Linked DNA regions of Homo sapiens: region 2 is linked to region 1. A link means that fine-mapping ties the variant in region 1 to the expression of a gene that starts in the linked region. Tissue or cell type: aorta. Region 1 holds a variant in brackets; the other region holds the start of a gene. All regions are shown on one strand. Distances are from middle to middle.

Region 1 (5,387 bases):
AAATGCACATACAAATCACTTGAAATTCCTTTTAATGATAACATAGCATATAATTCTATAGGGGAAAAAAGACAATTTGTGCTCTTATTTGTTGCCAATGGTTGCACTTCATTCTGAAAGTCATTTAATATTGAAATAAGTATCTTTCATGATTATCCTAATATAACCATTTTAGTTCTAACCCTGACAAGCAGCAAACTTTGTCCCCTGGCCCAACTTTATCAAGACGGTTGAAGTGTTTTTTTAAGTTATTCCCATTTTGCTTCTGGAAAAACTGGGCACAGGATGTTTCATGACCTTCCTCTTATGCACCCTGGGACTGAATTTGATCACAGTGACAAGCCAAACTGAGAATTTCTAAGGCCAGGAATACGGGCTGCCCTTTCTTTTAATGGACACATGGATGAAATGGTAATGTTTCCTTAGCACATTAAAAATAGTGACTAAAAAGTCGAAGTTTTTTTTTTTTCCGAATCTAATAGCTGTCTTAAATCGGGTAGAAAAGAAAGACGCAATCATTCCTTAAATGCATATTTAAAATTCACCAAGCCAAAGCCAGTCTTGCCAGATTTTGTAATCCTTTCCATAGTCTTTGTAAAGTACCTAGCTTGCCAATTAAAAAAAAAGGGGGAGGAGGAGGGAAACCTCAAGTGGTTTTTAACCACCAATAACAAAAACGACAAAGGTATTTTGAAACATCAGTTGCTGCTAGTTAGGAGCTAGCATGGATGTCTCTGGCTCAAAGATAATTCTTGCTCATGTTGGGTTTTTTTTTATTGCAACAGTATAAAATCAGATAAAGATAAATAAAATGAAATGGAAGCACAGAGATATTTGCTCTAAATATGGCTAAAGTGAATTTGTGGCTTGATGCCACTTTTCGCAGCTTTGTTCTCCCTAATCTAATTATGCCTTGAAGTTGTCTGCATTTGAGAAATTAATACTTTGATGAAATATCTAGCCAGTTCCATAAGCAGCAGAGGGAGAGGAAAGGGAAACATATATATAGTATTAACTCTGCCAGCCTTCAACCACCACAAGACCTCCTGGGCACAACAGTGGCCCACTAATAAAATGAAATGATAGCATATGTGCTTTGTTTAATTTTGATGTCTTCATAATGTATTACACAATTAGATTGATTTGACAATTTCCATTATGCTTGATAAAATATTTATTGAGCCCTGAAGATGATAACTCTTATCTAACCACCATTTGTTCTACAGATGTGACATATTTAATATATAAGTAACATCACTCAGATCTATGTTCCAGTTAGCCCATTACATTTTATTTGCAGAGTACAGTGTAAAGTCATCAATAACGCTTTGATAGATCCCTGTCTGCCCGGTGCTTGACAGGTGCGGAGAGAGCTTGCTCACATTCAGCGGCAGGGGCACATCAATCATGGCCAAGAAATTTACTGTGTGAAATTGGCCTCATCTGTCTCAATGCTTGATGCAGATCGAGTTTGTTCTTCTGATAGAGGTGTCGTTAGTCACCTAAGCATGCCTCCCTTGGTACTCATGCTCTCTGCAAGTAATCTTTTTTTTCTCCCCCTTCTCCCCCTTCCCTTTACATATTTTTGTGAAATTAAAATCTCGCCCTCCTGTGACCCTAATCCACATATTCTTGGCCAAAACAGGAGCCAGGTGACCTTTGAGATTACCCTTGTGAAGCCTTGCAGGTTGAGTGGAAGAAGATGCTATTTTTTGTTGATGCTGTTCTTTTTTTTTTTCTTTTTCTCCCCTAACCTCACAGGCAACATGTTCCACTGATGAGAAAACCGGCAAAGACAGGTTAGGCAGAAGAAAAGAGAGATGAGACAACGGACTGTGCCAACAAACTAAAATTTTACCTGCTGCTATGGATAAAATAGCTTTCTTTTTAGAAATACTCATGTTAATAAACTCCTACATGCGACATAATATGTGCCTAGAGGTCTGGATAAGTAAGATGTGTGTGTGTGTGTGTGTGTGTGTATATATATATATATATATATATATATATATATATATATATATACACACACACACAATTTCATTTGCAATAGGAAGTCTTCACACTGCAAAGGTCTAGGTAGATTCCTAGTTAAATGGCATTTCAAATTAAGGCATCTACCCCTGTCAAAGGAGAACTCCAAATGGTAACTGGCTCCCACAACTTCGAAGTGCTGCTGAGACCCTCATCAGCTTTTATCTTTGCGCCCCGTCATTCTCCCATGGGCAAAGAATTGCACAAAAATCTTGGAGTAAACACAAACAAGTGCCAAAATGAAGACCATCAATGATCCAAATCCTTGCAAGGTATAAAAGAGAATTTTTTTCTGAGTCCCGAAGTCAAGATTGTTATAGGCTGCAGGATTTTTATGTGAGAATGGAATTGTAAGATTAATCTTTGGCCAAGAGCACTTCTCTGTTTCTTGCAAAGGATTAGCTGACTTAAACTAGAGGCTCTGCGTCCTGCTCCTGGAGCTGCAGTCAGCTGTTTTTCCTTTGTGGAGCTTCCTGATATGCCCAAACACCTTTCTTCTTAACCTTTGTAGTTATTTCAGTATTTACTTCATTCTAAATCCTTATGCAGACTTTTTTTTTGCTTTCCAAGGCAAACCTTGTAGATAGCCAATCTGTACTGTTTCCACCAAATTAATGTGAGAGCTTGTTTTAGCAACTGCAAAACAAAAGTGATACACGGCTTCAATAAGACATATTATCTTCAGAACCTGTAAAAGTTGAGACTATCTCTAGACAAAGCGCAAGCACAGGATAGTCCTACCACTGCAGTCAAAATACCACAGAAGCTACATGCCACAGCAGGATGCCTGTCGGATAGACAATTAAAGTGGCCCAGGAATGACATATCCCCTCTTGCCAACATAATTAAGGTGTATTATTTGTCAGGGAGGTCAACGGTGAACAAATGTCCTAGCAAACTGAGAATGAAAGACAGGGAAGGAGCAGATAATGAAATTCAGGGATGACAAATGGCTCGGAGCCTGACACCGTGGCATCTGACAAAGAGAGACATCCAATGGCTCTGAAACTTTTCCTGGTGCTCTGGAAGGCTCTTGGATTTGGGGCATTTTTACATAAAGGATGTTGCATGTATCATTAATGTCATTCCATTTCCTTATAGAAAAGTATTAATATTGACAACTGTAGAAGAATGATATTGTCAAGGCAGAATTCAATATGCGGTATGGTTTTTGTCATGTGTACTCACTCTGCTGCTCCTTTGTGTCCTATCTACACTTGTTTTACAGCCACCTAGAGTAACCAGCCTATCTCCACTTTTCCCATTACTTGTTAATAGCTATTGTGCAGATAAAAATGCCTCAGAGTGACCTATAGGGACACCTCTGCC[T/C]TTGGCCAAGCACCCCCACAAGTGAGGGTACGAATACTTCCCAAGCTAAGCCAAGATTGAGTTATGTTCAGACAATAAGTATCACCAATTACTACCCTTCAGTTGTTCCCAGATACCAAAGGCTTAACCACCCACGGGAATAGCGACTGGTGCCTGCCACTTCCCTAAGGTTGTGTGTATTGTGCTAGGATATTTGATAGACTTGAGTATTATGGCTTAAAAAAACTATACAGGAGAAGGGATGCCAATTCCTAGGCTAAACCAGCTTCCTTTGTGAACAAATATCTGGGGGTGTTCCTCTGTGATAAAAACCATTTACGTCATTTTAGGCCCATTTTTAACCATACTGGGTCATTTTACAATTCAGAGAGCACAGATTAACCATACAGAGCCAGCAGTTATTGATGTGGAACACAGTAGGACTCCACAATCTTGTAATGCTACAATGATGTAGTCACTAATTTGTTTCTGCATCTAGCATTATTTATTCACCAAAATATTTGTTGATCACCTATTATGTACCAGGCATAGAACTGAATGGGAGGGCCACAGTAGTGATTCAGACAAACATAATCCCTGTCTTTACTAATACTGTAGCCAGAAAGACAGACATTAGCCAACATCTACCAAGATAACTAATTAGTCATAAATGTGATAAGTAGCAGGAGGAATGCTGGAAAAGCTTTTGACCAGCAAATCTAACATACGCTAGGGTCTCAGGCAGGAAGTGACACTTAAGGTGAGATATAAAGCAAGTAGGAATTCACATAGATAGGGATGTGAGTGTGTGTGTGTGTGTGTGTGTGCAAGAGACAGAGATGAGCAGCAACAAGAAGGAAAGGGAGGCGTCTAGGAACAGTATCTCAAGCAGAGGTAACAAAGACCCTAAGAAAGGAGAAAGTTTGGGTTGGTGGAGGAAAGAATGAAGCCCAGTGTGGCTGGAGCATAGACAGTGGAGGAGACGGTCACAAGGGTGAGGCTGGAAAGACAGGCAGGGCCAGACCATGCAAGGCTTTGAAGGCTCTTCTAAAGATTACGGCCTTCACATGCCTCTGCAATTAGAGAAAGCACTGGAAGTAAAGCCAAGCAGATATCAGCCAATGTGTCTGAGCAGTAAAGATATGGAGGTGAATGAAACGTCTCATTTTCAGATTTTCTCTTACCTAAAAAAAAAAAAAAAAAAAAAAAAATTTGCCTGATTCTCAGGCACAAATTTAGAAAGCAGACACATTTGGTGATATAACCACTAAAACTCATGCCTAATGTCTTCTAAATTTTATGGCCTTTTCCTTATAGGGACCTGAAAAGCTCTTGACAAGGCAGGAACGTGACTAATATAATTGAGCACATACTCTGTCCCAGGCACTGTGCCAGGCACCTTTAAAATCTCTTATTTTAATACTCACAAAAATGTTAAGACAAATTCCCCATTTTTTAACTGAAACAAATACAGAGTAAGTAAATTGTCCAATATCAGAAAACTACCAAGAGGCCTGAATGCTAATCCATCTGACTCCAGATTCGATGTACTTTCCACAGTGAAGACAATGGACTTTTTTCTACATTGATTCGCCTTTTGGTCAAAGTGGAGTCATCACTATTGGTATAAAAAAAGTATGATGATGGTTTTCTGTAGGTTGCCAAAGACTAACATATTGACATGTGAAGAATTCAAATATAATTGTGTTTTTTCAAGCAAGCTAGTGCTGTCTTCTTTTTATTTAATTGAAAGAGCTTCTTTATCACATATACTGTCCCATGAATACCTTCCATCCTAATCTCCACCTCAAAGCATTGGGCTCTACCTGCTAGCTTGCCTTCAACACTGCAATCTGAGTTCTTCAAGTACTACTGGAGTACTTCCCAGAAGTAGGAACAAAAGGATTTACAAGGTGTATACAGGTGGCTCGCTGGCCCTACACTGCTCTTCCTCCTTCTCATCTGCTCTCAGTCCACTGCTCCCCCAACCCCTTCCCCTGTGGCTGCCATTCCTCTCCTTCTCTTTCCCACTTTTTTTCTCATCT
Region 2 (5,387 bases), 30 kb before region 1:
TGAGAGAGATGATTTAGGGTATCTGGCAGAAGAAATTTCTAAGCAGAAAAGCATTCAAGAGGTGACTTGGGTACTGTTAAAAGCATTCCATTTTAAAAGGTAAACAGAGCATAAAAGTTCAGAAAATTTGCAGCCTGATGATGCAGTAGAAAAGAAAAACCCATTTTTTGAGGAGAAACTGAAGCCAACTGCAGAAATTTGCATAAGTAGGAAGACCATGGGGAAAATGTAACCAGGCCATGTCAGAGACCTTCATGGCAGCCCCTCCCATCACAGGCCTGGAGGCTCAGGAGGAAAAAGTGGTTTTGTGGGTGGGCCCAGGGTCCCCATGCTGTTTGTAGTCTAGGAATTTGGTGCCCTGTGTCCAAGCCACTCCAGCCATGGCTGAAAGGAACAAACATAGAGCTTGGGCTGTGGCTTCAGAGGGTGGAAGCCCCAAATCTTGGCAGCTTCCAAGTGGCATTGAGCCTGTGAGTACACAGAAGTTACGAATTGAGGTTTGGGAACCTCTGCCTAGATTTTAGAAGACGTATGGAAATGCCTGGATGCCCAGGCAAAAGTTTGCTGCAGGGACGGGGCCCTCATGGAGAACCTCTGCCAGGGCAGTGCAGTAGGGAAATGTGGGGTCACAGCCCCCACACAGAGTCCCTACCGGGACACTTTCTAGTGGAGCTGTGAGAAGGGGACCACCATCCTCCAGACCCCAGAATGGTAGATCCACCGACAGCTTGCCCTGTGCACCTGGAAAAGCTGCAGACAATCAGTGCCAGCCCATAAAAGCAGTCAAGAGAGAGGCTCTACCCTGCAAAGCCACAGGGGCAGAGCTGCCCAAGACCATGGGAACCCCCTCTTGCATCAGTGTAACCTGGATGTGAGACCTGGATTCAAAGGAGATCATTTTGGAGCTTTAAATTTGACTACCCCACTGGATTTTGGACTTGCATGGGCCCTGTAACCCCTTTGTTTTGGCCAGTTTCTCCCATTTGGAATGGCTGTATTTACCTAATACCTGTACCCCCATTGTAGCTAGGAAGCAACTAGGTTGTTTTTGATTTTACAGGCTCATAGGTGGAAGGGAGTTGCCTTGTTTCAGATGAGACTTTGGACTGTGGACTTTTGAGTTAATGCTGAAATTAGTTAAGACATTGGGGGACCATTGAGAAGGCATGATTGGTTTTGAAATGTGAGGACATGAGATTTGGAGGGGCCATGGGTGGAATGATATGGTTTGGCTGTGTCCCCACCCAACTCTCAACTTGAATTGTATCTCTTAGAATTCCCACGTGTTGTGGGAGGGAACCAGGGGGAGGTAATTGAATCATGGGGGCCAGTCTTTCCCTTGCTACTCTCATGATAGTGACTATGTCTCACGAGATCTGATGGGTTTATCAGGAGTTTCCGCTTTTGCTTCTTCCTCATTTTCTCTTGCCACTTGCCCTGCCATGATTCTGAGGCTTCCCCAGCCATGTGGAACTGTAAGTCCAATTAAACCTTTTTTTCTTCCTAGTCTCAGATATGTCTTTATCAGCAGCATAAAACCGAACTAATACAGACACTCTCCACGCTACACAAATAAGCCTGGTCTTCCACAGAGCCACCTTGCCCTGAGTTTACATCATAGAACTTGCTAAGCTACCCTCCCTTTCCTGATAATTAAGTGGGTAGTAGTTATGTGTGTTGTGCGTTATCTTTATCTACCTTTATTATCTTAAATCCCACACCTGCACCCACTGTGAGGTCACTATTACTGTTTTTTCAGTTAAGGAAATAAAGACTGAGAGAGCTTCTCATGATCATATACCTGGTGTCAGAACCAAGATTTGAACCCAAGTCTGCCTGATTCAAAAGCCCATGCTCCTAATGACTATGCAGTGCTACTGCCCTCATCCCTATCAGGATGGCTTGTTCAGGGGGTGCACCAAGCTTTAGGCACTCCCTGCACATGCCATTGTGGTTCACTAAGTGGAAAATTAATTAACAGTTACTGAATTTTCAGTTATTTTTTTCAGTATAATTTTGTCAACAAATAAATACTTACAGGTCTAAGAATTTTTTATGTTATGAAAAGGGATCCTCATTGTAAAATATTGAAATCCAACTCCTTCATTTTATCTACAATCTAGAAGATTCTACATTAGTTCAAGTCGTCCTCATCCTTGAGATGTAAAAGAAATTGCTCTGAACCACCCAATTTCTTGACCCCTTGTGAAGATGTCTACAATTCCCAAGGGTGGAAGAATTAAGTCTTATTGGTGCCCTCTGCCACCCATGCCCTAGAGTTCTCCTGCTCCACCTCCATCTTCTCCTATAAAAATGCACCTTCTCATTCAGTAGCTAGAAGGTGGCCAGGCAAAGCAGGCATTTTGTAAATTTTAGTTGACTGGGGGAGGGAACAGATGAATAATGCAGGATGTGAGGCTTTGTAGGTTAAGATCACAAGAAGAGGTGGATGGTTATCTACTATCTCCCCCCACCAAGAACTTTTCTGACTCTGAGTTTGAGATGTCCAAAGAAAGGCAGAATCATACCTTTCTCATTGATTCTTATGTTTACAAAGTACCTTTATAAAGCGTCTACTGTGTTCCAGGTACCATGTTAATTTCTAGAAGTAAAAATGTCAACTCTGTCACTGTCTTCAAGGAATCCATAGTGGGAAGCAGAGCACACAAACAGATGTTTACAGCACAACATGATGAGTGGTTTATTACACACAAAGTATTCAGGAAACAACTAAGAGGAAGAAAAACCATCTCCACCTGGAAAGACTGGAAAGGCTACACACCAGAGCTCAAATTTGAAATACATCTCGAACAAGGATTTGGCCATGCCAAGACAGTTGAGTGGAAGGAAGTACATTCTAGGCAAAGAAAAAGCACAAATGTGACCTACAAATGAAAGATTGGTGAGTAACTCTGCATAGCTGGAATATAGGCATAAAAGAGAAGGCAAGAAATGAAGCTGAAATGGTAAGTCAGAAGTGTATTATTTAAACCCTTGTTTGTGGTGCTAAATGGCTGGGCAACTAGGAGTCATGGTGTGATCAGATCTGTAGTTTGGAAATTCAACTGGAAACTGCTATGGATGAGAGCTAGGAGAGGGGAGAAATTAGAAGCTATTATAGTGATGATGGCAACCAATGGTGAGGTGATCTTTAGGTCATCACTGGAACCTGACCTATAGTAGACATTCAAAAAATATTTTCATGTAATTGAATTTGTCTCATGAGCTCCTTGATCTAATATACTGAGCAACTAGCCTTGCTACCATATCTTGTAAAATGCCACTCGTGTTATACGTTGTGGGAATGCTTAGGTGCCTGACCAGGATTTTAAGAAGATATAGAACTAACTTAGTATTTATTTATAGGTCGCCCATCACATGCTAAGCATCTTCTATACATTATCTCATTTGTGCCACACAACAATCCTTCAAGACAGTGTTTTCACCATTTTACACAGGAGTAAAATGATGTTCAGAGTAACTAATAAACAAATTTATCCAACTAGGGGTAAAGCCAGATTTTTAATTCAGTGTACATCTAACTTCAAAGGCACCTGTAAATTTGGGATATTATGGCAAGAGAGGTACTGGTAAAGCCACATTATCTTTAATCAAATATTTTAGAATAGCATCCACAGGAGTGTGCATGTGAGACCCCTGGCCTGGGAAGAGGAGTTTGCATCCTGATTTCCTTTTTCACTGCATATGGCAGCAAACCATAATGAGTCAGACATTGTCATAACACATTGCATAATTCCAATGAAGCATTCACATCTCAACTACTCTTGATTATTTCCAATTCCGTAATAAATGAAAGAGATCAACTGTTCGGTGGTTTGAGGAGGGTGGAAAATCATTTAATTCTTAAGTACCATTAAATATTTAATACTATTATAAGGAGGTAATGTCACTTTCCATAATACATTTGGCTTCAGGTACACTGGAATCCAGATTTTGACACCTCCATACCATGATAAATTTTTGACCCTGAAATTTTATTTGAAATCACGACTCCAAAATCTCCTGTAGCCAATCTACCAGGAGTAGTATCTGTCAACAGAGAGAACATCATATAAAGACCTTAACATTTTGAAAGCAAAGCCAAATGAAGCTCAATCACGAAAGGTCTTTTCTTTCTTTAAGGTGAGAGATGGAGCACAAATGAAGCATACCATGGTAAATAGGAACTGTGCTCACTTGCAGTCATGCACTATAGCCATTAAGCCTTAAGGTCTTAAGGTACTAAGCAATGCATATGATAAATTTCTCAAAAACATCCCAGCCATAACATAGTTCTTGCTGATTGCTCATTTACCCATAATGCATGCTGTCATAGCAAAGCCTGACAAATGACAGAGAAAGCTCAGGTTATTTTTTACACTGACTGCCAAGCCCCTCACCTCAGATTATTCATTTATTAGGGCAATCACTGAGGTCTGGGTACTTAATATTGTTTTCACCAAATATGAAAATGATCTACTTGCCTATTCTTTAGTTCCTCCTAGGGCAAGCCATTTATCATCAGCTCAGGATAAATGACTGCTTCATTATAGCTATAATTTATGAGGTGTTAGAAGTAAAGAGCCACGCCTAGAGACTTAAAGCTTTAATATGGATTAAAATAAGATAATCAATCAAGCTAATACAAATTTTCCCTCAGCATTATTTCTTGTTTTGAAATAGCTTAATAATTTGGTGAGGTGGCGGTAAGCTATGTTGAATATCCCATTATCCAACTACATGCATGTATGTCTGAGACAATACGTAAAGAAATATAGGATGTGATACCATCGGAAAAAAAGAAATACAATGAAACCATCAGCTGTAATTGGCTGAAATCCTCACTTTCCTTAATGGTGTCAAACTGGAGACCAAAGAATTACAAAGCAGGTGTAAACTTGGGTAGCATATTCCCTCTAATTCTTTTTCCTCTGTAAGAATATTGTAGAAAGATTGCTGCTGTTTTACTTTTCCTTATTCTCTCTACAACAAAGAAACACTGGGGAGAAAAGTTATGTCCCAATAACATGTCAACAATTTTGCTTTCTTTTATGTCTGAAGGTTTCACAACTCATAATTTGGACAAGAGCAGCTTCTTACTCTGTCTAGGGAATAAAGAATATTTCCCTCTAAAATGGCATTACGGACTTTAAAGAAATTTTTTCTGGTTTGCATCTCAATTTTATAGTTATTAGGCTATGCCAGAACAAATATTATTTCTGAAATATGTGTCATGCTCAAGACACTAACGTAAACCTATTTGGCCACTTGAGTGAAAAGCTTTGAAGACTGTACGGGAAATTCACGATTTAGTACTTTAAACACACAGCACCAGGAAGAAAATCACCACAAGAATTAACAAATCAGCAGTCTAAAGCCAAAGACTC

Evidence for each region. PIP is the estimated chance that this variant, and not a neighbour inherited with it, causes the effect.
Region 2: it holds the start of MECOM-AS1, and the variant in region 1 is the best candidate, but not a certain one, in a credible set for the expression of MECOM-AS1 in aorta (GTEx, PIP 0.68).

The regions. Positions count from the first base shown.
Region 1 is chr3:169,475,125-169,480,511 of GRCh38, forward strand. All of the region lies in intron 1 of MECOM (MDS1 and EVI1 complex locus), which reads right to left. MECOM-AS1 (MECOM antisense RNA 1) reads left to right here. Exons shown (of 5, transcript NR_134932.1): 5 at 1,762-1,928. Among named protein-coding and RNA genes, the nearest start is that of MECOM-AS1, 30 kb to the left of the region's middle. The variant T/C (reference allele first, on the strand shown) is at 3,364.
Region 2 is chr3:169,444,970-169,450,356 of GRCh38, forward strand. MECOM-AS1 (MECOM antisense RNA 1) reads left to right here and starts at 2,898. Exons shown (of 5, transcript NR_134932.1): 1 at 2,898-2,966. All of the region lies in intron 1 of MECOM (MDS1 and EVI1 complex locus), which reads right to left.